Regions from separate parts of the Homo sapiens genome. Here regions 1, 2 and 4 are each linked to region 3. The links come from fine-mapping of genetic effects on gene expression. A gene starts in region 3. Each other region holds a variant in brackets. All regions are shown on one strand. Distances are from middle to middle. Region 1 overlaps LDLRAD3 (low density lipoprotein receptor class A domain containing 3). Region 2 overlaps LDLRAD3 (low density lipoprotein receptor class A domain containing 3). Region 3 holds the start of LDLRAD3 (low density lipoprotein receptor class A domain containing 3). Region 4 has its middle 25 kb from the start of LDLRAD3.

What was found. PIP is the estimated chance that this variant, and not a neighbour inherited with it, causes the effect.
Region 1: its variant is fine-mapped to the expression of LDLRAD3 in adrenal gland (GTEx, PIP 0.95).
Region 2: its variant is fine-mapped to the expression of LDLRAD3 in whole blood (INTERVAL, PIP 0.95).
Region 4: its variant is fine-mapped to the expression of LDLRAD3 in substantia nigra (GTEx, PIP above 0.99). The same link has a PIP of 0.9 or more in prefrontal cortex.

What each region holds. Positions count from the first base shown.
Region 1 is chr11:36,065,416-36,071,743 of GRCh38, reverse strand. The region is part of intron 2 of LDLRAD3 (low density lipoprotein receptor class A domain containing 3); the gene reads right to left. It overlaps LOC101928510 (a long non-coding RNA gene), which reads left to right. Exons shown (of 2, transcript NR_135064.1): 2 at 4,483-6,328. Among named protein-coding and RNA genes, the nearest start is that of MIR3973, 58 kb to the right of the region's middle. The variant T/C (reference allele first, on the strand shown) is at 2,375.
Region 2 is chr11:36,108,344-36,114,671 of GRCh38, reverse strand. All of the region lies in intron 4 of LDLRAD3 (low density lipoprotein receptor class A domain containing 3), which reads right to left. Among named protein-coding and RNA genes, the nearest start is that of MIR3973, 100 kb to the right of the region's middle. RefSeq lists enhancers at 2,856-3,379, 4,478-4,657, 4,430-4,953, 5,478-6,001, 6,002-6,328. The variant A/G (reference allele first, on the strand shown) is at 2,953.
Region 3 is chr11:35,941,144-35,947,471 of GRCh38, reverse strand. LDLRAD3 (low density lipoprotein receptor class A domain containing 3) reads right to left here and starts at 3,410. Exons shown (of 6, transcript NM_174902.4): 1 at 3,328-3,410. The coding sequence starts at 3,373. RefSeq lists a silencer at 3,060-3,499.
Region 4 is chr11:35,915,527-35,921,854 of GRCh38, reverse strand. No RefSeq gene overlaps it. Among named protein-coding and RNA genes, the nearest start is that of LDLRAD3, 25 kb to the left of the region's middle. The variant C/A (reference allele first, on the strand shown) is at 2,323.

The sequences.
Region 1 (6,328 bases), 120 kb before region 3:
ACTGTGTATCTCCAATGCCCAGAGAAGTGCCAGGCACACAGACTACTCAATAATTACTGACTGAATTAATAGGCAGAAATCCGAGCATGCAATTTTACTTAAATGCACCCTTAAAATATATGCTATCCTGAAACCTGTTTTTGCTACATAATATGTTGTGACATCTTTTCTTGTCAATAACTACTGGTACACATCATCATTTTTAATGGCTAAGGGTAACTTTACTGTGTCTATGTATCCATAAATCCCGTTACTGATGGACATTTGGGGTGTTTTCAATAAACAATGCACAGCCAGATACATATATTATTTTTCCCACTTGTATATTATCTCGTGAAAGTATAACTGCTAGGTCAAAGGACATGCATGCTTTACATTTTGGTATCCTTTTGACTGTTGACTGCCTCCTCCCTGAGGAACTGGTATTGTCTTCTGGCCACAGACAGCTATGAGAAAAGCCTCCAGCCTAGGATTGTCTGCGATGGGCTGATTCTCTCAAGTTGGCAATGACGCTCCTAGAAGCACAAAGGCTGAGATCATCCCATGGTTCCTCTGCATTTTTGTTAAGTTGCTCCTTAACTGCTGCTGCGCTCTATTATTCTCCATCCATCTCTGTCTCTTTTCATTTTAACATCTGTGTATTTCATTATTCTGCAAAGTAGGGGACACTCCTGTCTGGTCAAGGAAACCATGACTCTTCTTTTTATCATTCTAAATTTGCACCGGGTACAGGGCATCGATCTTTGCTGGAATTGGTTTCTCTGGGTTGCAGGAATCATGGCAAAATGCAGCATCCTCCTTCTGTGAGATGCTCCTTGAGTTGACTTTCCTGGGCTACATGGTCTCCTTTGACTAAGGACCTTGACAAAGGGCAAGGGCAGGCTCTCGCTCTTAGGACTGTCCTACTTGCCAGTATTTCTCCAGAATTCCCCATCCTCTGGGGCAGTGTTGCAGAGAACAAGTCAGTGATCCACCTGCAGCAGGATCCCCAGGGACGCTTGTGAATATGCAGATTCCTGAGTCTCTCCCCTAGGGGAATCTGCATTTTTACTAAGCACACTAAGGATCTCAATGGGCACTAAAATGTGAACATCCTGCTCTGACCGATTCTACCACCTTCTTATACCCACAGAGCAAATGGCCTCATGATTCCTTTCTTCCTGATGTTATTGCCGCTCCAAGAATCATGGCTACACAGCCAATGAGGGACCTACTCTGGCCATGACTCCTTCAAGCCAAGTCTAATACACCCCAGATAGAGGAGTTACCATGAGATAAATATCCACAAGGAAACAACTGGCCTCTTTATGATCTTTCCCCATTTCAACACTGCTCTCTTCTTCCCCATTTGTGTGCAAGATACAAATTCTGCTTCACACACAAAAGCTGTGGGCTCATATACAAACGGTTTTTGTTCAAGCAAAAAGGCCCTTTTTAGAGCTTTGAAACTTACTCAGTTCTGTCTACTTTGTAAGGATTTACATTTACCTGTGCCCAACAGAAAATAGGATTAAAGAGGCAATAAAGAATCTGCCCCTGTTTGGCCAATATCAAAATATTCCTAAGCATTCTATTACCTGTCTGGTGCTGAGTCAGTTGTGTGGGGATTCAAAAGCGAAGCTGACAGGCTCTCTCTGTGATAGTGGAAGACAGAGACAGGTAAAGGAGCCTCTGCATGTAATGCAAATAGTGCCCTGATTGGGGAGCTATAGGATGCTTAATCTCAAACTAGGAACGAGGCTGGCATCAGAACAGGCTTCTCAGGGGAAGGTCGGTTTCAGCTGAGGTCGGCCACGGTCTAGGCGGAAAAGCAATGTAATATTTACAGCATGAGGCCTTACTCATTCCGTTTTTCATTCCACTAATATTAATTCACAAACTCTGTGTCGCACCTGCAAAGAATGAGAATACATAGAAGACACCTAGGCCACATTTGAAATTTTAGTGTTTGTGGAATTGTGGAATCAAAGATGTTCCAAGCCGCCTGTGTAAAGGCCTGGAGGCAGAACAATGTGGTAAAGGAGCAACTGAAAGGAGGTCAGTATGAACAAGCTTCTCATATACGCAAAAGTACCTGGCATCTTTTCATTAATTAAAAAAAAAAAAGCCCTATTTCTCATAAAAAAATGTGCTATGAACCAGTTACAATTCAGCTCACTGTAAAGATGTGAGAATGACAAGGGCTAATCAAAAGTATATGTTAGAAAAGAATCAAAGTATAAAATTCACATAATTTGAATCAACATGCACAGCTCCCCAAAGTGAAAACCGACATGTGGCCATTGCTAGCTAAAAACTGCAAAAAGCGGTCGATCTGATGTTGCTGCTATTAATATATTCAGTCCTCTAGCTCATTTGGTAAAAGGTCAAACTG[T/C]GGTTCCTTTGAAAATGACTTCATGGTTGGGGACAAGAAAGCAAAGAAGGCCTTGTAAAAATAACTGACTTCTAAAAAGTAATCTGCCTGGATTCTCCAGGAAATCTGGGGGCTAAACGGGGGAGCTCCTTTATTGTGGTCCCAAGGCAGATGACAAACAGCCCAGAAAGCAAACTCACTCCTGGAATTCTAGCCTTTGCAAAATTTATGGCTTGAGCAAAAAGTCCTTTGCTTGTTGCAACAGTTCAGCTCCACATGACTACTGGAGTAGACTCCAAGTTTTATTGATCAGATATTGCAATGTATTATTTCTTCCTAAAATAACATATTGGCTGTTTCAGACGTACACACTGGGGAGTGAAAGAGCAACAGACCATACGCTAACTGGAATATAAATACAGAAAGAAGGCATCCAGTTGAAACAGCTTTGCCACAAGATTCTCTCGTAGAAAATTCTTTCCAAAACTCTTCTCTTTTATGCTGAGAAGAGGAGGTCTACAGCCTAGGGTTAAGAGGTCAGAAGGACTCAGAGATAAGAAGCATCTAGGTTTCTGGGCTGGGCGCGGTGGCTCACGCCTGTAATCCCAGCACTTGGGGAGGCTGAGGTGGGTGGATCACGAGATCAGGAGATCGAGACCATCCTGGCTAACACGGTGAAACCCCATCTCTACTAAAAATACAAAAAATTAGCCAGGTGTGGTGGCACATGCCTGTAGTCCCAGCTACTCGGGAGGTTGAGGCAGGAGAATCGCTTGAACCCAAGAGGCGGTGATTGCAGTGAGCTGAGATTGCGCCACTGCACTCCAGCCTGGGTGACAGAGTGAGACTCTGTCAAAAAGAAAAGAAAAGAAGCATCCAGGTTTCCACCTCAGTTCCACCACGTAATCACTGAGATCTTGGATGAATCACTTAACTTCCCTCAGCCTCAGCGTCCCCATCTGTAAAAGGAAGATAAAGATGGTATAGAACTCCCAAGCTGTTGTGAAAATAAAATGAGATTTTGCATGTAGAGAATACAGCAAAATGCTTGCTATCTGGTAGAGATTCAGTAATGCCCTCCCTTCCCTAACATAGTTCATGGTTCTACAAATTGCTTTACACATAGACGGCTAGTCCTGAGAAAAATGAGGTGGAAATCAATGTAATGTTTAGACAGTCTAAGGCTTTGCTCTTTCAGTTATTCATTCCACCAACATTAATTCTCAAACTCACTTTATGCCACACACAGAACCAAGTGTGGGGGCTGCAAGAATGATTCCTGCTAGCAAGAGGCCCTTAGCTAAAAAAAACACCTGGCCAAGAGAAAGAGAACGAAAAAGAGACAATAAGCAGATGATTGCAATGAGATGTGGTAAGCACAACAGAAGCTGTATCAACATTTGCCTTTCAACAGTTAATTATGGCTAGCTGTGGTGGCTCTCACATGTAATCTCAGCACTTTGGGAGGCCAAGACGAGTGGATTGCTTGAACTCAGAGTTCAAGACCAGCCTGAGCAACATGGTGAAACCTTATCTCTACAAAAAAAATACAAAAAAAAATTTAGCCAGGCACACGCCTGTAGTCCTAGCTATTCTGGAGGCTGGGGTGGGAGGATCGCTTCAGCCCAGGAGGCAGAGGCTGCAGTGAGCTGAGATTACACCAATGCACTCTAGCGTGGGTGACAGAGCAAGATCCTGTCTCAAAAAAAAGTTAATTACAGCAGTTAAGCAGTTAGATGTCAGCCTGCCTGGGTTTAAATGTTGTGTCTACCACTTATTGGCCATATGATTTATGGTAAGTTGGTTACCCACTCTGTGCCTCAATTTCCTTATCAGGAAATAGAGAGATGAACACTACCAACCTTGCTCAGTTGTTGAGGGGATTAAATAAGACAATGTAATAATTACTTGGCACTTTTTCTGGAACAAAGTATTAGCTATGATAGTTAATACTATATTTGCTATCGTTTTATACATTACATCTTATTATTTGATATTACACTATAAAATATAGTATTATAAAATATAAAATGTAGTGTTATGTAGTATTGAGTGTTACAGATTATCCAGCATTATTATACAGTATTAGCTATTATTACTATTCCCATTTATTATTATTATCATTTCAGACACTTTCTGCCCAGCAGTGGATGCTTAATTAATACGTGGGGAATGGCCAGAATGCAAAAGGAACTCAGAAAGAGTGGGACCCACTCAGCCTGGGGAAGCCAAGGAGTACTTCATAAACCTGTGCTATTTTAGTTGGGTATGAAAGATTATTAGGAGTGTGTTAGTGAAAAAAAAGAGGGAAGGACACTCCAGACAAGAGGAATGGCATGAACTGAAGCTCAGAGTTGAAACAGGTTATGGCTTGTACAGAAATCTGGGAGAAGTTAGGACACCTGGGACATGGGCTATGCGGCAGGAGATGCGTCTGGGAGCGAGGCAGACAGGAGTCTGGAATTATCCTGGAAGCCAACAGACATCTTTCTAAAGGAAAGTGATGAGTCAGATTTGTTTTTTCTGAAGAAACTTTTTATATGAACTCACAAAGATATCATGAGGCTATTGAAAGTCAAGGAAATCTCCTCATCCCCCCAACAGCCCTGAGGGAGCAGAAGAGAGACAAGCCCATAATATTCTTCGTACTTTTAGAAAGAAAGACACTATAAACCATAACAGAATTCAAAGTGGCTATCATCGACCTTTAAAGTACTTTTATTACGAAGAATGACGAGGAAAAAAAAGGCAAAATTTCCACCAAGCAAGTTTGGGATTAGGAAATTATAATGTAAAGGGGTTTTTAAAGGTTATTTATTTTGGCTATTTGTAATGCACACACATATGTGGATAAAGAGGTTTTTGTGTGCATATACATTGGAATGAAAATTCTAGAGAATTTATAAGCAGGAAACTAAGATATTCCCAACCGCTGCTTCTACAGACAAATCTTGAGGGGTGAGGAAAGATCTAAAAAGATAATAAATAAATGTGGGTTAGGTAACTGAGCCTCTGGAGGCTTTTCACTACTTGGTGGAAAAACTTCCTGACAGTGGATCCAAGTCCCTGGGATTAAGACCAGATGTGAGCACAGAGATTCAGGGAGAACAGAATAGTTTCCACCTAAAAAAAGAGTCTTTCAGTAAAGGTATCATCCAACTGCATGAAAGGTGATATCTAAGGGATGACTCCTAACAAGCAGTAGAAAAAAGTAAGAAAAAAAAAAAAAAGAAAATGAGTGAAGAGTGTAAGAATCACAGACAGTTTTCAAGTCTGAATGAACTCAGAGAGGACTCCATTCTAGACCCTTTTCCATCTCACTTAGGCAAGGAGGGTTATCTTTGCCAAAAGAAGAAGGGTTTACTTTTCAGAGCCTCCACCCTCTCCCATCCCCTTGGCTCCTAGCAAACCTTGAGGTTTTCCTTCTTCAAACATCCTCGCTTCCGTGGCATATTCTTTGCCTTCGGACTCCAAAGAGGAAGCTCATTTCTGATGAGCTCTCTAGAGGCATCTCTGAAAGGTTTTCTTGGCCCTCCCCACATGATCCACATAAACAGCAGAACCCTAAAACTCAGGTTTTGTCTCAAAACACCTGCAAAGGGCAGATATAAAGGCCTACAATGTGAAGATAAGCCACTGTAACACCCACGGGAACTGAAGACTTCCATTCAGATACATCAGAGGTGAGTGTGTCAACAGGGCAGAGAGGGAGGGAGGCTCCTTCAGGCTGTTCCCACAGCCTGCACAAGAAAACATTCTCTGTGTCATGATGTAACTTGAAAACAACTCTTTAGGGAAAATAGTACGTTAGTGCACCACAAGTCTTGCTCTAGGAAAGGTTTCACCAAGGCATCCTGAAATTTCTATAATGCCTTCTACATCAGTCACAGGAATCAGAAAATCCCATGGCTATCATCTCTTGGTAGCTATGAGCTAACTTTAACAACAAAATACTGATCCTCAGCTTCTAACTTA
Region 2 (6,328 bases), 170 kb before region 3:
TCTGTGCCACACAGGAAAGACTGCCTGACAAATTAGCTAATGAGGACAAGGCATCTGTCCTTGGAGGTCTCCTCCAGATGCAAATTGGCCCAAATTTGAGGCCAACTGACCTCTATGGAAAAAGCAAAACCAAAGTCAGATTCCTGTCATCCAGAGAACAACTGTCACCTTGATCACACTCCAAAATCAAGATAAAAGCTTGGCTTTCCAAGGGTCACAATGGGCTTACAATAAATGAGCCCATGTAGGAAGAAATAAATATGTGAAGCACCTCTTCCACTTGACATTTGGGGCAAAGGAGACGGGCAGCCACTACAGGATGTCTCTCAGCCCCGATAGGCAGATTTCTCCCGGTTGGCACCGCACAGTGTTGCAGCTCGACCCATTTCACTTGAGTGAGCCCAAGGAGGGACAGCATGGACTGAGAGTTCTCTCTCAGGCTGTGTGAACTGATGTCACTCACAGCAGCAACAAATCTTCTAAAAGTCTTCTAAAAGTTCCGGTGTTGATCAGTGCAAAAAACCTACAGCCCATGCTACTGCATAAGCTAACCTTTGACCTATCGGCTCAGTCCAAAAGAGTCTGTGGCAAAGACTGTGGCTAATCAATCCCCAGTACCCATCCAATCTCCCTTTCTGCCTTTTCATAATATTATAGAAAGTCCTGACTATTTTGATCAATAGAGTATGGCAGAAGTTGGCTGGGAATGGTGGCTCACACCTGTAATCCCAGCACTTTGGGAGGCCGAGGCAGGTGGATCACCTGAGGTTAGGAGTTTGAGACCGGCCTGGCCAAAATGGCGAAACTCCGTCTCTACTAAAAATACAAAAATTAGCTGGGTGTGGTGGCGTGGGCCTGTAATCTCAGCTACTCAGGAGGTTGAGGCAGGAGAATCGCATGAACCTGGGAGGCAGGGGTTGCAATGGGCTGAGATCATGCTGCTGAACTCCAGCCTGGATGACAGAGCAAGACTCTGTCTCAAAAAAAAAAAAAAAAAAAGTGATGCTATGTGATTTCTACACCTAGGATATAAAAGGTGATATAAGTACCCACAATGAGAAAGAAAACATTGATCAGCCTCCCTTGCAGCTAGGTGTGGTCATGTGAATATGTCATGATCAGGCAACCACATCATCAGTGAAAGTGATGTGTATAACTTTCAGGTCATCTTCTTATATATCAAGCTATCTGTCCTGGTCTCCCCTTCTTATTTCCTTTTTCTTTCTTTTTTTTTTAATTTCAGTCTTCTCCTTCTGTACTTCCCCGCTTTCTGATGTCTCAGAAATAGTAACCACTGTAGTGGTCTTGGAATTCCTGAGGAGCGGAGAGCTCCCTGTTGGCCTAAACTGCTCATCTCTGGGGTATTCCAAGTGAGAGATCTTTTTCTCATCGAAGGCACTTATTAAGCCATAACCTGCATCTCATTTTAGCCACTTCACGATGGGATCTCTTTGTTATGGCAGCTTACCCTATGTTCTAACTAATACAGAATCCCTGGGCCACCTCAAATATTCCACATTAAGAACCTAATGTGAGAAAGAATCATAGAAGAAACCCTAGAAACTAGATCCCAAAAGTCCCTCAAAAGATGTGCACATATCTGTCTTTCTGAACCTTTTCCCTGTCTTCCCATTCCTTCCTATTTGTCAGAGGTATGCAATGTAGGTCTTCCATGACTCCATGTATGACTGACTGACACTGACCATTCTTGGTAAGAGCTTGCAATCCACTCAAATCAGTTCAAATGAAGGGAAAGGCATACTCTAGAAGACAGAGGCTTCACTGAAAAGGCAGAGATACTGGGCTTCCTGGGGATTTGGGAAAACATCTGAGGAAAAAAAGCAAATACTCTCTCCATCTCTCTTTTGGGGATGGCCACCTCTGGCCTCTTGGGCTGGCCTCTAGGTGGACCAGCACTCTCTACTATGAATTCTGCCTTTCCCAGCTGTAGCTTCTATGTGACTGTGTCCTATCCTACGGAATGATTTGCTTAGCATCCTAAGGCTGATTCAGCCCTGAGTGTCTTTGAAAGAGACATTCTGATTTGCTGCTGGCCAGCTGATAAACAGACTAGCCTAGGATCAATTGTCCACTTAAGGTTTGGTCAACAATGACTGAGATGGCAGGGAGGTGTCTTGGAGAGCAGAGGGCTGCCCCTTCCAAAGGTCATGAGTGCACGGTCTGGAAGTTGCTGAGGACAGGGCAACTAATTTAACATACATTAAGTCCCCTGGCACTCTGGATATATGGGGAATTCACGTTTACTTTTAAATAGAAGGCCTTATGCAACATTTCTCAAGTTAGTAGTGGTCAAAGAGATGGTTGTGTATTCCTGGTCTTTCTCTTCAATTAAAAAATAAGCTACTAGAATGAAGCAGCTCATAGGAATTCTCTTGACTCTCAGCACCTAGCAATGTGCTCTGCAAAAAGGAGGGTTTCAGAGTAGCAGAGGTATCCATGTTGGCTGGATTTTGAAAATCCAGGAATAATGTTGCAACAACAAGCCTGCATTAAAAAGGATGTGCTATGAGGATCCATTTCATAAAGTGTGGTTTGCACAAACTTATTCTCTCTCTATTTCTGCTGTAGAGGTACAAATAAATTTTCTTAAAGAAAAAAAGGAGGGTTTCAATAACAGCTGACCTACTGATGCAAATTTGAGCAGCAGACACATGATAAAGGGCACAAAATCTCAAGGAAGAGAACCAATGGGAGAAGATGGGTAAGTGTCATTTAGAGGCATTCCACAAAATGAACTAAAGATGAACCAGACTGGGCCGGGCGTGGTGGCTCACGCCTGTAACCCCAACACTTTGGGAGGCCGAGGCAGGTGGATCACGAGGTCAAGAGTCCAGGCCAGCCTGGCCAAGATGGCGAAACCCCATCTCTACTAAAAACATAAAAATTAGCCGGGTGTGGTGGCAGGCGCCTGTAATCCCCGCTACTCGGGAG[A/G]GTGAGGCAGAGAAGTGCTTGAACCCGGGAGGCGGAGGATGCAGTGAGCTGAGATCGCTCTACTGCACTCCAGCCTGGGCAACAGAGTGAGACTCCATCTCAGAGAAAGAAAAAAAAAAAAAAAAGATGAAACAGACTGATAACATGGTGGGTTTCCAGAGAGGAAAACAAGGTGGAAACAAGAAAGAGCTGCTTGGAGTACTTGGGGGATGTGACAAGAACTGACATATTTGCAACACAGAGCACATTTCCACCTTTCACTGGCCACAAAGCTATCAGGAAGTCAAACTGGGGCCAAAAAAAAAGACATAACTGACCTGATTGAATAACCCAGGTAAGTTTTTCAAGCCACTTGTTGGAAGCAGGAGGGGGAGGATATCCCTTCTATGGTCACTGAGCTTCCCAAACTCTTCTCACCCCTAGAAATTCACAGGTCTACGATTCCCCGATTCCCCAGGCTCATCCTGCCTGTAGGCTAGCAGGGCTCAGTAAGACACAAGGATAAGCAGAATTCTCACGGCATGCAGTGATAACGAGCTGCTCCTATGAATTTCTTTTCCAGGGTTGAACATCTCATTTCTCCTGGGTTTCTTCCTCTGTCTCCACCTTCTCATTGGATCCTGCAGGGAGGGGGCCCCCAGCAGTCAGCCTCAATGCACCCTAACAGTTTCACGTCTCCCACTCCCCACACATACACATGCACACTTTGCTCCAGCCATACAGAATCTCTGTCTTTGGCTATACTATTCCCTCTCTGGCTAGATGCCCAGCCCCACGTTTGTTTTCAGGTCCATTTTTATGTATTTGTAAAGACTGGGCAGCGATTTCATTTCTCTGAAGCCTTGCCATATCCCCCTAGGAAAAACTGTCACTCCTTGCCAGCCTCAAGCTCCCACGGCATGCTGCTCATTCCTCTATTACAGCATTTATCACACTTGAGGGTAATTATCTGCAGGCTATTATGTTTCTCCCTTGCAGGACTGTGAGCAACTTTGAGCTGATCTATAATAGTTTGTATTTCTTCCAGTACCTGGGTGAGACCGGGCAATTGCAGGCACTCTGCAAATGATGTGTGCATGAACGAATGTTAGAAAGACCCAAGAGAGTCAAAGGGTGTTGGGGGTTGGGGAGCTGAGAGCCACAGCAGTCAGTCCATGGAGGGATAAATGTCCCCTCTACAATCAAGCAGCACAACACAGCAGTCTTAGGGCTCCAGAAACTTGCAGAGCAAACTTGCAGAGAGACAGCAAGCCCTACCCCTGATCCCTGACTGCTCTGAAACTCAGTCCTTCCACCTCAGGAGGAATCACACTCTGCCAGGTGTCCAGGATGGACTCCGCCATTCACCGGGGAGAGAGAGCTAGGACAGAGGCAGGGACCAACTGGAGAGGGACAAGGAGGGGAAACCTGCACCTGAAAGAAATGGGGGAGACTAAAGAAACAGCCCTAAAGATTACCGCAGTAACAAAGTTATCAGGAAGCAACTACTGTCTTTGAGTACAGAATCATTCTGACTTGCTTCTAAATGAAAGACGTTTCAGAAATCTTCAAACTCCTGCTGCTGTGGTTAAAGAAAAGGAAGCTTTTGTCATGCAAACACTCTATTACTAAGAAGAAAACCCCACCTGTACACAAAGGCAGCAATCAACCTCTCCCAGCCTCCTTCAGTTTCTTCGAATGGAGTCAGCATTTTTGCCTCTCTCAGCCCAGCTGGGCTTTCAAACTCTAAATTAAAAGTGGAAAAAAGGCTTCCACATTCTTCCTGTTAAATGGACCTCCAGCAGCTTCATTCTATGAAAATCTACAGGAATTCCTTAAGGGTGATGATTCTTTCCTACGGACTCTCTAATGAAGCTCTTGACATCACTTGCAGCCACAAGGTTTGGCGTAAATACTGACCACCCTTCAAATTCCAGGTTGTGACATTTTTGATTGGATCCCCTAAACGCAGACTATTTTTTTTTAAATATAAAGCTTTTTCCATCCATATTTGGAAAACTAAACTAAAATTAGCACTTCTCCTATCACATGCCCTGCACGACTTCTGTAGAAATTATCTCTGCCTGCTTAGTCACTTGGTTCTATTTGGTGACAGAAAAAAGCAAAGATCTCTCTATTCCAAAAGTATAAGCTCTTTTACTCTCAATTACCCAGACTAGTGGGGGGCCTGGAGCAGCAAAGTGGAAAGCAAGCACAATCAGAAAATAATACGGCAGATTCTCTAGTTCCACAAAATTAGTATCCCCATGGTGATAACGCAGCTTGCTACTCTCATCCAGTTTGTCATCAAATCTTGGCGATTCTAGCCTGAAATACTTCCTGAAGCCATCCCCCATATGTTCCCACTGCCCCCACCTTCACGTGTCTTATCCGTGGCTTCCCACGGCCCATGGGAGAGAGCGCAACATCCTTCCCATGGTTTCCCAGGCCCCCAGTCCACGCAGGCCACCACGGACCACTCCAGCTTCCCTGCAGGCTGTTCTTCCCCCGTCCATGACAAAGATTCTCTCCTTGACCAAACTCCACTCCGGTTCTTCTGAGCTCTCTTCTCAAAGAAGCCCTAGCTTTGGGGCTTCTGCGTTCCTCTCTGCATTGTCTGATTCTAGCAAAAGCCCTATGAGTCAGTTTAGCAAAATCCTCCATCTGCCACATGCTCACCCTTGATATCTGATCCTGTTCCTCATCCTCCACCATCCTCCACCATCCTCCTGGCCTGCCTTCAGTGAGAATCCTGTTAGGTCCATTGAGTCAGAATCCCCCCTTACCCTGATGTTTCCTCTTAGTAATTTTCCACCCACTAACCCCACCCTACTGCTTGGCTAAAAATTCCCACTTTTCCTATTATATTTGGAATTGAACCCAGTTCTATACTGAGGTCTCTTTTCCCTGATGGCAACCATTTTTCTAGATAAAGTTTGTTTTTAGTGCTTTACCATCTAGCTCTGGCTTTTCTTTGACATCCACCCCAGGGCAGCCACGTGGATCTGCCAGTTCCTCAAATGCATCACGCTGTTTCTCACCTTGGGATCTGCTTACCTGCCATTCTCTCTGCCTGGAAGGATCCTTCTCCGCTGACCCTCCTCTCTCTTGTCCAGTAACTCTTCCCCATCCTTCTGGTTTCAACTTCAGCATCTTGTCTTGAGAAAGACTTAGCACCCCACTGACTGCCCTGCCATTCACTTCCAGAGTGTCCTGCGCCTGTCCTTGCAACACATTCCTCACGCTACTGACCAACCGAACACCTGCTCTTCCTATAGAATATGAGCTCTATTAGAGCAGAGACCACATTTGTCTGGTTCCCTATTACCGTTCTTCAATTCTAAGATACAATTTTTATTTTACATTTTAACATTCTGAAACTGGAATGCATCTTTTT
Region 3 (6,328 bases):
GCGGCGCGATCTTGGCTTATTGCAACCTCCGCTTCCCAGGTTCAAGTGATTCTCCCACCTTGGCCTCCGGAGTAGCTGGGATTACAGGCGCACGTCACCACACCTGGCTAATTTTTGTATTTTTAGTAGAGACGACGGTTTCACCATGTTGGCCAGGCTGGTCTCAAACTCCTGACCTCAAGCGATCCACACATCTTGGCCTCCCAAAGTGCTGGGATTACAGGCGTGAGCCATTACTCCGGCTTAAGGCCAATTCTTTAACATGAAATTACTTGATTATAAGTGTTCCTAAACTCCAAATTCTCTAAACTGCTTTACAAAGGTGACAATACAAGTCCACTTTCAACTTATCCTGCAGACTGGCTGAAAGGTGTCTAAACCACTCTTCAAGGCCCAGAATTTACCACCCCACCCTCTCCTACTCCCATCTCTCTCCCTCCCCCACTTATCCCAGAGTAAATGGCCTAAGTCGGCTGTCAGGAAAAAACATCTCACACCCCAGTAGGGAGCCTTAGTCACATCTCTTTGAAGATGAAAAGCAACAAGGTGTGTTTATTTGTACTCTGGTGTACAAGGCCTCTTTTAGGCCTCATCTTCCCGAGCTGAGCTGTGCTGAGATGTGCACAGCTACTCAGCAAGTTAAAAACAATAAAACCCACCCCTCACACCGTTAAGCAGATCTTTCCAGGAGAAAAGGTCAATACTCACTCCTGGGAGTACACTCACTCCTGGGAAAATCAAGCCTTTTCACTGATACAGAATGTCAGGAAGTCTAGGCAAAGGTCAGTCCTGGAGGAGGTGAGAAGATGGACCATCATCCAGCATGGCTGCCTTTAGAAATGTCTCAAGCCATACGCACTTAAACCCACTGAGTCCACCCACATGCAGGAAAACTGGACATCAGATGACATGACTTGGGCTTAGTCTCTCTCGCAGGATACATTAAAAAATAGTAACGGTGAAAATCAATGCTTCACTTCCCTAACACAAATAAAAACAAAGGAAGAAAAAAATATGCAAGGTGTCTGAGAAGGTTCCTGAATAAAAAAGGCCTCCAAACTGCTCTTGGAATGTCAGTGGCTTTCCAGCCCCACAAAGACTCAGGACTCTAACTACGGTTCAACCTTGACCCTGGGATTCTTTCACAGACTATCAGATGGAGACAGAGATCCAAAGTCTTGGCTTTTACAATCTCTCTTGTTTTATCAACTTCCCAGAAGAGGATCCAAGCATAGGCCATGGGATGGAGGGGTAGGGTCTCTGGTCTGGCTATGAAACCCAAACTGAACCAAACAGGCTTTTCTTATGGGCTGGGAGCCCAGGAGCATCTAGTTGACATTAGGAAAAAGGACCAGCCCTGTTTCTGGCAACACTTGGGTCAAAGTGAAATCTATGCTAAAAAGATGATGCTTAATGTAACATGAAAGATGCACACACTCCAACCTGCCTAGATGTTTCTAAGGCAGCAACTCTAAAGGTAATTCAAAGCCCACAGATAATGGAAAACCCACCAGGGACAGTTGGACTATTCCTCCCCCTATCCGTCTGCTCCTTGCTATGACCATTTTATTTATTTTAGCCCTATCTCAGATGTACACACACACATTAAATAGCCACTGCTGACCAGAGAGGGACAAAATTAACTTTACAACTATTTTTACAGAGATGGAGACTCAACTAAAGCAACCCAGTACCAACTGGGAGATGCAATAAATAAGTTTCCATTTGGCTACAGTGGCTCTCCCAGGACACACACAAGAGCCAGCTTCCATACTGTCCTTCTCAGGTGCTATGAGGGGACACACCACAGCTACACAGATTGAATTTGTGAATCCAAACAGGTCTTCATATCTGTAGACGCCCTGAAAATCGACCTGCTCTAACAGCCTCCAAACAATTCACACCTGCTCCTGGCTGCCCAATGTCCTGTGAGAACTCTCTCCCCAGGTGGACTAATTTAAGGGCACTCTCACCCAGACCTGGTTAAAAATCCACAGCAGTCACCAGGAGGTCTAGTCCCTCCCTGGAAGCCCAGCAAACCCATAAGCATCTAAATGGGGTATCAGAGGAGTGGAGATGATGTCATGGGTCTGAGAGCAGGAAAGGCTGCCCAGTGGGCTGTGAGGATGCCCAGGACCAGGGACATCAAGGAAGAGAGGAGATATCCCTTTAACGCATTCATAACTCCAAGGCACAGCTAAGAATGAAGTGAGCCTCAACTTAGCAAACCCACAGGCCACCAAAGACACCTCGACAGCCAAGCTGCTAGAAGCACTTGGCAAAATAGGGCAGCTATTGGACATGTGGATGGCACAAACACCAGGCAGGCAAGATTCTGCTGAAGAAAGTTCACTGGGCCCTGTCACCCACATTCTAGGCATCAGATGCCCAGAAATAAACGTCAAGGGGCCAAGGGCGGGCCCAGTCCAGGAGGGACAGCTGACAGCTGTGGGCGGCGGGCAGGGGCAGAGGAGGAAGGGCTCCCAGGCTGGAATTCGGATCATGCCCACATCAGCAGAAAAGTTCCTGGGAACAGCACGCTGTCTGGAAGGGAAAGAGGCTTGCTGCGGTCCAGGCCCCGGGATGCACACGCGGTGGTGATGCCAGGTTCAAAGGGCCGCCGGATGAAGCCCCGTGTCCTCTCCCAGGGCCCCTCGCCGGTCAGGGCGCCCATCGCGGGGCAAGTAGGGTGGTCAGACGTCTTAAATAAAGCTTCGGTTCCCAGGATCAGTGGGGAAAAATGAATTCCCAGATCCGGCCTTGCTTCAACTCACTTTACCCAAACCAAACAGTCCCAGAGAGGAATGAAAGGAAGCAGCTTTGCTACTCCCTCCGCGGTGCAGGTGGGGAAACTGAGGCACGGAGTGCACGCCAGAGACTCGGGAAGAGGCCCAGAGGAGGCTAACGCAGCCGCGCGCGACCAGGCGTCTGGGAAGATGAGACCAGGGAAGAGTTCTCTCCTCTCCTCTCCTTTCCTTTCCCCGCCTCCGTTCCTCAACACACACAACACACACACAGCCACACTCGAGCTACGCCCAATCGGGGCAGCCGCCGGGCTCCCCAGACCCGGACTGCACACAGAGCCCCGCCCGCGCACACAGCACAACACGACCCGGCGCGCACGCCCACACAATAGGACGGCTCGCACCCCGCGGCGGCCCCTCGGCAGGGTCCGGGCCAGCCCGGCGCCGGGGTCCGCCCTCCGCGCTCACCCACGCCCGGAGAGCGGCCCGCGCCCGGGAGAGGACGCGATCGCACCCGGCCGCTGCGCCCCGCGCCCCGCGCCCCGCGCCCCGCGGGAAGTTCGCCGGCCGCCCCCCGACTCACCCGCGGCGCTGCTCAGCAGCAGGCACAGCGGCCCCAGCAGCCACATGGCGCGGCCGCCGCTCCCGCTGCCCGGCGTCGTTGCTGCCCCCGCGGCCTCGGCGCTGACCCCGCCCCTCGCCGCGCCGTCCCCGCCCTCCCGCCTGGCCCTCCTCCCTCCCGCCTTCCCCGGGCCCGGCCCCGGCCCGGCTCCGCTAAGTTTTGCAAGCGCCTGGGCTGCGCGTGGCCACCCGCATGTTACCCTGGGTGTCCTGACTCCGAGGGGCCGCCGAGCGCGGCGGAGGGTTCAGCCTTTCGGTCTCTCAGCCTTTCAGCCTCCCAGGTCTGGCCGCGAGGATCTTCTAACAGCCTGGGCTCTGTTCTCTGCTTCCTTTTGTCCCTCTCATTTCTGCCTTTGCTTCCACACCCAGCGAGATGCAGCGCCCAGACCAAAACTTGAGTTCTTTACTCAAACTACAAAGTGAGTTTACTACCGAGAGAGAAAAAGTTAAAATAAAGGGTCAAATCTTATGAGAAAATTGTAGTATATTTTTAGTAGCGAGTGTGGAATACCAGTGCTTCTCAAACTTTAATATGCATCCGGCACACTTGACGATCTTGTTAAAATACTGACTCTGGTTCAGTAGATCTGGCGTGGAGCCTGAGATTCTGCATTTTTAACAACATGGTGGCTGATTCCAAGGCTGATGATCCGGGAGCCACCGGTAAGAGCAGCTGACACCTACCATGCACACAGCGTGGACCACATGAGTTATTTTGTCTGCATAGTGTCCACCTTGACCTGTTGAACGTTTGGGACCCAATTTGGAAAAAATAAAATTAAAAAAAGGAAAAGGTCATGAAAGGCAGATACCCAAATGCAAAAAATATAGCTGCACCAATGCACTTGCTTCCAGAGGGCACTGGTGAAAAGCCCCAAAAGACTTAGATGGTGGAAGAAGGGGATGACACTTCTGTGCTCCACTCTCTCTGATCCCCCACCCAAAAAAAGCAAAAGACTAACGCAAATAATTGCCAAAAACTGGAAACAACTCAAGTGTCCATCAATTGATAAATGGATCAATAAATTAAAACTTTTGGGGGCAGTGGGACTGTTCTAATCTTGATTATAGAGGTAGTTACACAACTGTATACATTTGTCAAAACAATAGAACTGCATCCCTAAAATCCACCCCTCAAAAGGGTTGAGTTTATTTACACAAACTCCACCTGGCTGAAAGAAAGGGGAAGGTATGGGTACAGGGGCAGTTATAAAAGGGATGCCTGCGTCAGATTTTGGGATGCCCTGGAGACACCCTCAAGGGTGTTAAGATTCAATTACTTTACTCTGTAATTGCGTGCTGTAGTCTGGAAACATAAAGGCTAAAAAGGATCAGGTCAAAATTTAAAAATACCAATGATTGTTCAAGGTAATGAGAAAATGTGATGTGAGGGAGGAAAGGTTAAGTTCCATAGTTCATAGTACACATGGAAAATATAAATCAATTATCTAAATGATTTGGCATTCGGGGCTTTTATCCTGGGATTGATGAATATTATGGAGATCGTCCCATGGGCTTCAAAGAATTTTAAAGCCCTTAAAATTTTATGCAAAATGTCCTGTGCATGTGGGTATGTGCATTGTTCCGGGAAGCTTGTTGGGAAGAGGCCTCCTGCCTTTGATAATAATATCTGAGGAGGCAAATAAGCAAATAATTTCTCCTACAGCTGCTCATTTGCCTCCAAACATTAGGGATACGGAAAGATAATGCAACTGACCCACTGCTATAGTTCTTATTTCCTTAGGTTTCTTTGGACACATCAACTTCCTTACTTTGCAAGTTTGACTCTGACTCTCTCTCTCGTTCTCTCTCTCTCACATACACACAGGCACACACACTTTTAAATATAAATATATTAATGTCTTTGAAATCATTTGGACTAATGTAAAACCTTATTTAAGGTCAACTGTTGTATTTATTTATTTATTTATCTATTTATTTATTTATGAAACAGAGTCTCACTCTGTTGCCCAGGCTGGGTGCAGTGGCACATTTTGGCTCACTGCAACCTCCGCCTCCCGAGTTCCAGGGATTCTCCTGCCTCAGCCTCCCAAGTAGCTGGGACTACAAGCACCCGCCACCATGCCCAGCTAATTTTTGTATTTTTAGTAGAAACGGGGGTTTCACCATGTTGGCCAGGCTGGTCTCGATCTCCTGACCTCGTGATCCGCCCATCTCGGCCTCCCAAAGTGCTGGGATTACAGGTGTGAGCCACCGTGCCCGGCCCGACTGTTGTTTTTATACTTATACTAAATCACTGCCAACCTCCTCCTCACCGTATAAGCTGGGTAGGAGATGAAACTATTCTTTATACTTTATTACTCTCCTTTTTCCCAGTTCTTTAGAATTCCAAGCGCAAAACATTCAGTTTCCAGGAAATGTGAGAGGTTTCAGTGCTAATCGTTTAGGTCTATGGAGCCAATCAATCTTTTTTAAGATTGGTTTAATAAAAATAAAAAACAAAGTGCTTTATGTCTCTTATTTACCAAGAGACACTCTGACCATGCATGTGTGCTTCTGACACGGTTTCACATTGCTGAAGGAGGGAAGAAAGAATGTCGTCTCTCTGTGGGCCTCCATACAATGCTCTGTAATTTGCAAACATTTTCTCATTTACTCCCCACAGCAGCCTCTGCAACATTACAGGTGAAAATAGCATAAACTGAACTTGTGGTGTGTCTGAGATGTGCTCCTATGCTCATTTCACTTGCCACAAACTAGCTCTGTGACCTTGTGCAAGTTATTAGCCTCTCTGAGTCCTAGTTTCCTTATCTGTAAAATGGGGATTACAGTATCACCTGGATCTTAGGGTTGCTGTCCAGGATTTAAACAGATAACATATATAAAGTATCTGGCATGATACCTTGCACATAGTAATTGCTCGAGAAACATTAGCTTTTGTGTGGTCGTGGTACACACTACAAGGCAATTGTTGTGGAAGCTAGCTTCTGAGATGGCTCTCA
Region 4 (6,328 bases), 26 kb after region 3:
GCCCAGCTAATTTTTGTATTTTTAATAGAGAAGGGGTTTCACCATGTTGGCCAGGCTGGTCTTGAACTCCTGACCTCAAGTGATCCACTCGCCTCGGCCTCCCAAAGTGCTGGGATTACAGGCGTGAGCCACCATGGCTGACCCCCTGCAGAATTTCTTCTTCTTGAGTATGGGCAGGACTGTGAGTATGATGGATTTCATTCTCATGATTAGGTTACATTGGTCAACAAAGGTGAAAGGAATTTGCAGGTGTAATTAAATGTTTGAGACAAATTAATCAAAAGGGAGATTATCCTGAGTAGGTATGATCTAAATCAAGCAAACCCTTAAATAAAGAGATTTAAAGTAGGAAAGATTCTGCTGACCTTTGAGAGGCAAATTGCCAAGTTGTGAAGGCCACGTGGTAGGGAACAGCAGGTGGCCTCTAGAAACTGAGAATAGCCCATGCTGACAGCCAGTAAAAAATCAGGGGGCCGGGCTCGGTGGCTCATGCCTGTAATCGCAGCACTTTGGGAGGCCAAGGTGGGTAGATCACGAAGTCAGGAGATCAAGACCATCCTGGCTAACACGGTGAAAACCCGTCAGTACTAAAAATACAAAAAATTGGCCGGGCATTGTAGCACGTGCCTGTGGTCCCAACTACACGGGAGGCTGAGGCAGGAAAATTGCTTGAACCCAGGAGGCAGAGATTGCAGTGTGCCGAGATTGTGCCACTGTACTCCAGCCTGAGCGACAGAGCGAGACTCCGTCTCAAAAAAAACAAAAACAACAACAACAACAAAAAAAATCAGGGACCTCAGTCTTAAACCACAAGATGAATTCTGTCAATGAAATGCACTTAGGAGAGAAACCCAAGCCCAGGACCACATCATGATTTCAACCTGCTGATATCCTGGGCAGAAGACCCAGTTAACCTGTGCCTGAACTCCTAACCCACAGAAAATACAAGATAATACATGTATGTTATATCAAGTTGCTTAGTTTATGGTAGTTTTTTAAAAACAGCAACAGAAAACTCATACACATGTCCATGGAAAATAATCACTTGTATTGCAATCAGTTAGCTGCAACTTACAAAGTTGTAAAATTGTTCAAGGCAGTGAAAGGTGCAGCAATCCCACAGAATCAAACACCCTGGAAGGTTGCCCAAGACAGCACATAGATTTTCACTGAAGGTACTCAGTAATGCATTTGGTCCATTTCAAAGTCCTTCCATACAGTGAAAAATGTTTCATTTATTTAAGTGCTTGTTTCACAGACAATATTGCTTTATTTTTATTTAAATAAACTTTTTTCCCTGAATGGATTTTAGACTACACTTTGTTTTTTAAATATGTGAGGGGTTGGTGGGGGTTGGTTAGCTTCCAGAAGTTGCAGAGTGGAGACCCAAGAAGGCTTTAGAAACAACCAGGAGGTCTGAGCCTCACCGCACACCAGTCATGGCTGAGAAAATGGACCTGGGCAAAATGGGACTGAGAGGTTTGTGTTTTATGTGCAGTGAATGCTAAGGCTGATTTTATCCATTCATCTATTTATTCACTCAACAAACAAATCCAGTACCTACATGGGGAAGAATTATTTAGTAAAAATAATGATAGCTAACACATACAAGCTCTTACCATGCATTAGTCATTTTCCTAAGCACTTTATTCATAGTAACCTATATAATGTTCACAATAACCCAATGAGGTATGTACTATTATTATCCCCGTGTTATAGATGATGAAACAAGCAGAAAAAGGTTAAGTGACTTTCCCAAAGTCCCACAGCTGGTGAGTGTGAGAGTTGGGATTCACACTCATATAGTCTGGGTCCTAGCTCTCATCCCCCACATGGTACCATCTTTATAGCTAGGATCTCTTGAGCCTAGACACCAGCTGCATCTGCTGGTATTTCTAAAGTATGCCTTACTTTGCAATTTACTTCTGTTGCCCCAAAGCTTCAGTATTGTCCATAGTAATAGTCCATCTTCAGCCAGACTACAGGAAATTAAAAATTTTTTACATTTTCCTATAGCCACAGTGTGTGGGCATGCTGATTGTACACAAAGTAAAACTAAGAGTTATTTTACTATCCTTGCAAATCTGTCACCCATTTAAAAATGTGTCTTTGCTCAATTCTGAGCCTTATTTCTGCTTTCCTTTTGAAGAAGTATATTTTCTCCTCTGCGGGTTGTGTCTTAGAAACTCTACTGCTCATCTCCCTACTAGGATTCAACCCCAAGCATAAGCTCTGTGGTGGTGAATACCCTGCAGCTGCCTGCAAACAATAAGTAATACAAAGGATGACTGAGGGTTTCAAGTTTCCTGTTTACAGCCTCCA[C/A]CCAATGGAGATCTCTCTGGGAGAAATGTAAGGCTGGCAACAGATTAACAAGGGTTCAGTTATTTTGCAAAGGAGAACAATGGTTCTTCTGACCACTTTTGATTCATTCCATCCCTGGTTTCCATGGAGCATCATCGTAAGAGGATCTATGTGTGTGTCAATAGAGTGGCAGGAGAGAAGCAGCCCAGGGCAAACAAGGAAGCATCAGCCTGGTGAGTCTCCATTGGAAAGAGAACACCACCAGCTCTTGCGATCCGGTTCCTGTGTGGGCAGGCTGCTCTGCCAGGGGAAAGATGATGGGTAGAGTGGATAACACAGTCCCCACTCTGCAGTCTCATTCTTCCCTCCTCAGGAGAGCTCTCCCCTCAATTCTGTTCCCTTTTCAGGCTTATTCCTGTTTCCATCCTTCCCCTTTTATTGTGACTAGTTGGAAACATAATGTAGGGAATCATATGTGCCCGCTAAGCTGCCCCACAGGAGAAAACAGTTAAGGAAGAATTTTCTTTGATTGGCCCTGGAAGTCAGGGATACTATGCCAGACACCTGTTCCTTTTTGGCTGTCCAGAATCTAATCCCCCTTCTTTTGACAATTCCGCCATCCCTTCTTCTTTCTGCCAGGATGACTCACCCTGGCTCAGGACTAGGGCATGTGATTTAGGTTTAAGCCCATTGAGGTATTGCATTTCCTTGGACTCCAATGACTGGCTCATTGATAATTATGTGACTTAATTAGAGCCAATTAGAGACACAATGAGACTTTTGCAGGGAATTCTGGGAAGGAGACTCTCACTAGATCCTTGCTTGACTTGAGAGGTATGAGGTTGGAACGGCTGTAGCCATCTCCATCTATTGAGGGAACACGGGTTTGAGAACACAGTCAAGTCAGGACGAGAACAAGAGACGCTGGATCTTGAGGACAGTGCTTGAGCCCTCGAATCAATCAATGTCTAAAGTAAGTCCTGATTTCAGACATTCAGTACATGATTCAATAAAATTTCTTTGAGCACTATCTTAGGTTGGATTTTCTCTTTCTCACAACCAAAAAAGTTGTCCTTTTCCCACTAGGGAAAGTTGAGGGGAAGCTCCAAGAACAAGAGCAGCCAGGAGAGGGGCAGTTCACTGCCGTCAGCCAGGAAACTGATTCTCAACTGAGGCTATTGTCCCTTTACGTTTATCATGAAAAGGCAGAACTTGCAACATATGCTTTTAGAGCCATTAGCTTTTCCATTTCTGTCCATCAAAAACCTGACAGTTTTATGGGTGGTGGGGGGAATCTGTCCAGTTGTTTATTCACATGTTAGTCTCCCTTAGAGTGAACACAGACATGGGTTGATTCCTCAATAAAAGTCATCCATATCTGCTTTTGGTCACCATGCCTTTTAAATGCTTATGTTTGCACAATTACACCATCTTTTTAGCTAATGGAGGGTCGATGAAGACATTTGGCCAGAGGACCCTGAAACACCTGAATCCCACCTTTGGCTGGCTAGCCCCATTTCTCAGCAGTGCCTTCACAGGAGCGGTAAGTAGCACTTTATTTTTAGAGAGAGCTTTGGTGAAAAACCATAATGCAAACTTGAGCAAGAGTGGACCTCATGCTTCTTGCCTGTCATGGTTCAAGCCCAATTCTCAGGTATTACCTGTTCGACTTTCTAGTTTCATGTTCTCTGCCTCTGGCTGATGTGTATTGGCTCAGGTTTTTTGTGGTTTGGTTTTGATTCTTGGTTTTCAACTATATCAGAGAAAAAAGCGAAAGTATTTTGTCACCTTTGCCTAGAATATTTGCCGAATGGTGGCTGCCCAAGTCCTTTCAAATTGAGTGAAGAAATCTGAGCCTGCTTCCAGGTGGGAGGAGGACTGTGTTTCCAAGGAGAGAAAAAGTGAAGGAGTGGGGAGAAGGGAAGAGAATGAACTAGAGCTACCCTGCTATTCTGGCCACGAGGATAGAGAGAAAAAGAGAGGCTATGCCTATGTTACGTGTGCTGTATATAACCTTATTTCTGTTGTAAGTTCCACCTCTAGAAAATACGGGCCACTAATTATCGCAGAATCTAACCAATCATATCAATACTCTCAGAGCAGAACAAGGCAGGAATTAAAAGGATAAGCAACAGAATGTTTGAAAGCTGGTTCTTAATAGTCAACATTGTAGTATTAATAAGGATAATGCCAGCTGCAACAGCAAATCATCTCCAAAATTTCAGCAGCCTATCCCAATAAAAGTTTATTTCCTGTTTGTATGACAATCCAAAGTGGGTATTTCTTCGAGTAGGGCTGCTTTCCTCCACTCAATGATTTAAGAACCAATGTTTCTTCAATCTTAAGGCTCCACCTTACACTGGTGATTTTCAATTTTAACTCAATATTGTAATTACCTGAGGAGCTTTATGCTAATACATGAGCCCCATCCCCAAGATATTCTGATTTTATTGGTTTTAGTTGCAGCTTGGGCATCAACAAGTTTAAAACACCTCCAGGGGTGTCTAAAGTATAGCCAGTGTTACACAAGGGTGTTGCCCTAGGGCAGTGGTTCCCAACGTGTGGTGCCCAGATTGGTATATCCACAACATCTGGGAACTTGTAAGACTTGCAAATTATCAAGTCCCTGATCTACTGAAGAAAAACTCTGGGGATAGAGCCCCCAGCAATCTGTGTTTTAACAGCCTTCTAGTTGATTCTGAGGCATACTCAAGTTTTGTTTTGTTTTCGAGATAGGATCTTGCTCTGTCACCCAGGCTGGAGCGCAGTGGTGCAATCATGGCTCACTGCAGCCCCAACCTCAACCTCCCAGACTCAAGTGATCCTCTTGCCTCAGCCTCCTGAGTAGCTGGGACCACAGGTGCACATCACCATGCCTGGCTAATTTTTCTTTCTTTCTTTCTTTCTTTCTTTTTTTTTTTTTGGTAGACATGAGGGTCTCACTATGTTGCCCAGGCTAGTCTTAAATTCCTGGCCTCCCAGAGTGCTGAGATTACAGGTGTGAGCTACCACATCTAGTTGCAAAGTTCTCTGCAACCAGGTGGAAGAGAAAAGAGGAAGCGTGAAGGAGCATATCTCTTTCTTAAATACCTTGGACTAGAAATGACCACATGGGGCCAGCTACATTCAGAGGACTATGAAATGTGACCCTGGCTGGGCAGCCTGTTTCTGCAATAATCATACACTCTTGAGTTGCCTGCACTGACTCTGAATTCCACACTAAATCAGGATTGAAAGAAAAGGAAAAACAATTCTAAATTCTAGGTATAACATAGATGGTCAGGGCTCTCAGGCCCTAGGAGTTCAAGATGAAACAAAAACCTATAAAAAGACATACAAATTACTTGTGTTGATACAGGATAGATGAGGTTCATTCAGACAGAGAAACTGACACATAAAAATTGCACAAATTTATAACCAATATGCCATGCCTTATAATGTTATTTTTTCATCAAAGTGATATAACCCCTGGAGTCCTCATTCTAACTCTCCTAGATTCACCACCTCCCCACTTCCTTCCCTGCAATAGCTCAACAGCAACTCTAAGGCAAAGATAGAAGATTGTACATCTGTAGGGACATGGCCATCTCAGAAGTCAGTCCATAAGAAATTTGCCTACTTGAGACCCCCTGCTGTGTGATGATAGAGGGTACAGAGACCTTAAAATTGAGCAGTTTGAGGCCGGGTGAGGTGGCTTATGCCTGTAATCCCAGCACTTTGGGAGGCTGAGGCGGGCAGATCACGAGGTCAAGAGATCAAGACCATCCTGGCCAACATAGTGAAACCCCGTCTCTACTGAAAATATAAAAATAAGCTGGGTGTGGTGGTGTGTGCCTGTAGTCTCAGCTACTCAGGAGGCTGAGGCAGGAGAATTTCTTGAACCTAGGAGGCGGAGGTTGCAGTGAGCCGAGCTTGTGCCACCGCACTCTAGCCTGGTGACAGAGCAAGACTCCATCTCAAAAAGAAAAAGAAAAAAAAATTGGGCAGTTTGATTCACATTCATGTCCTGGCTTTGCCATTTCTTTCC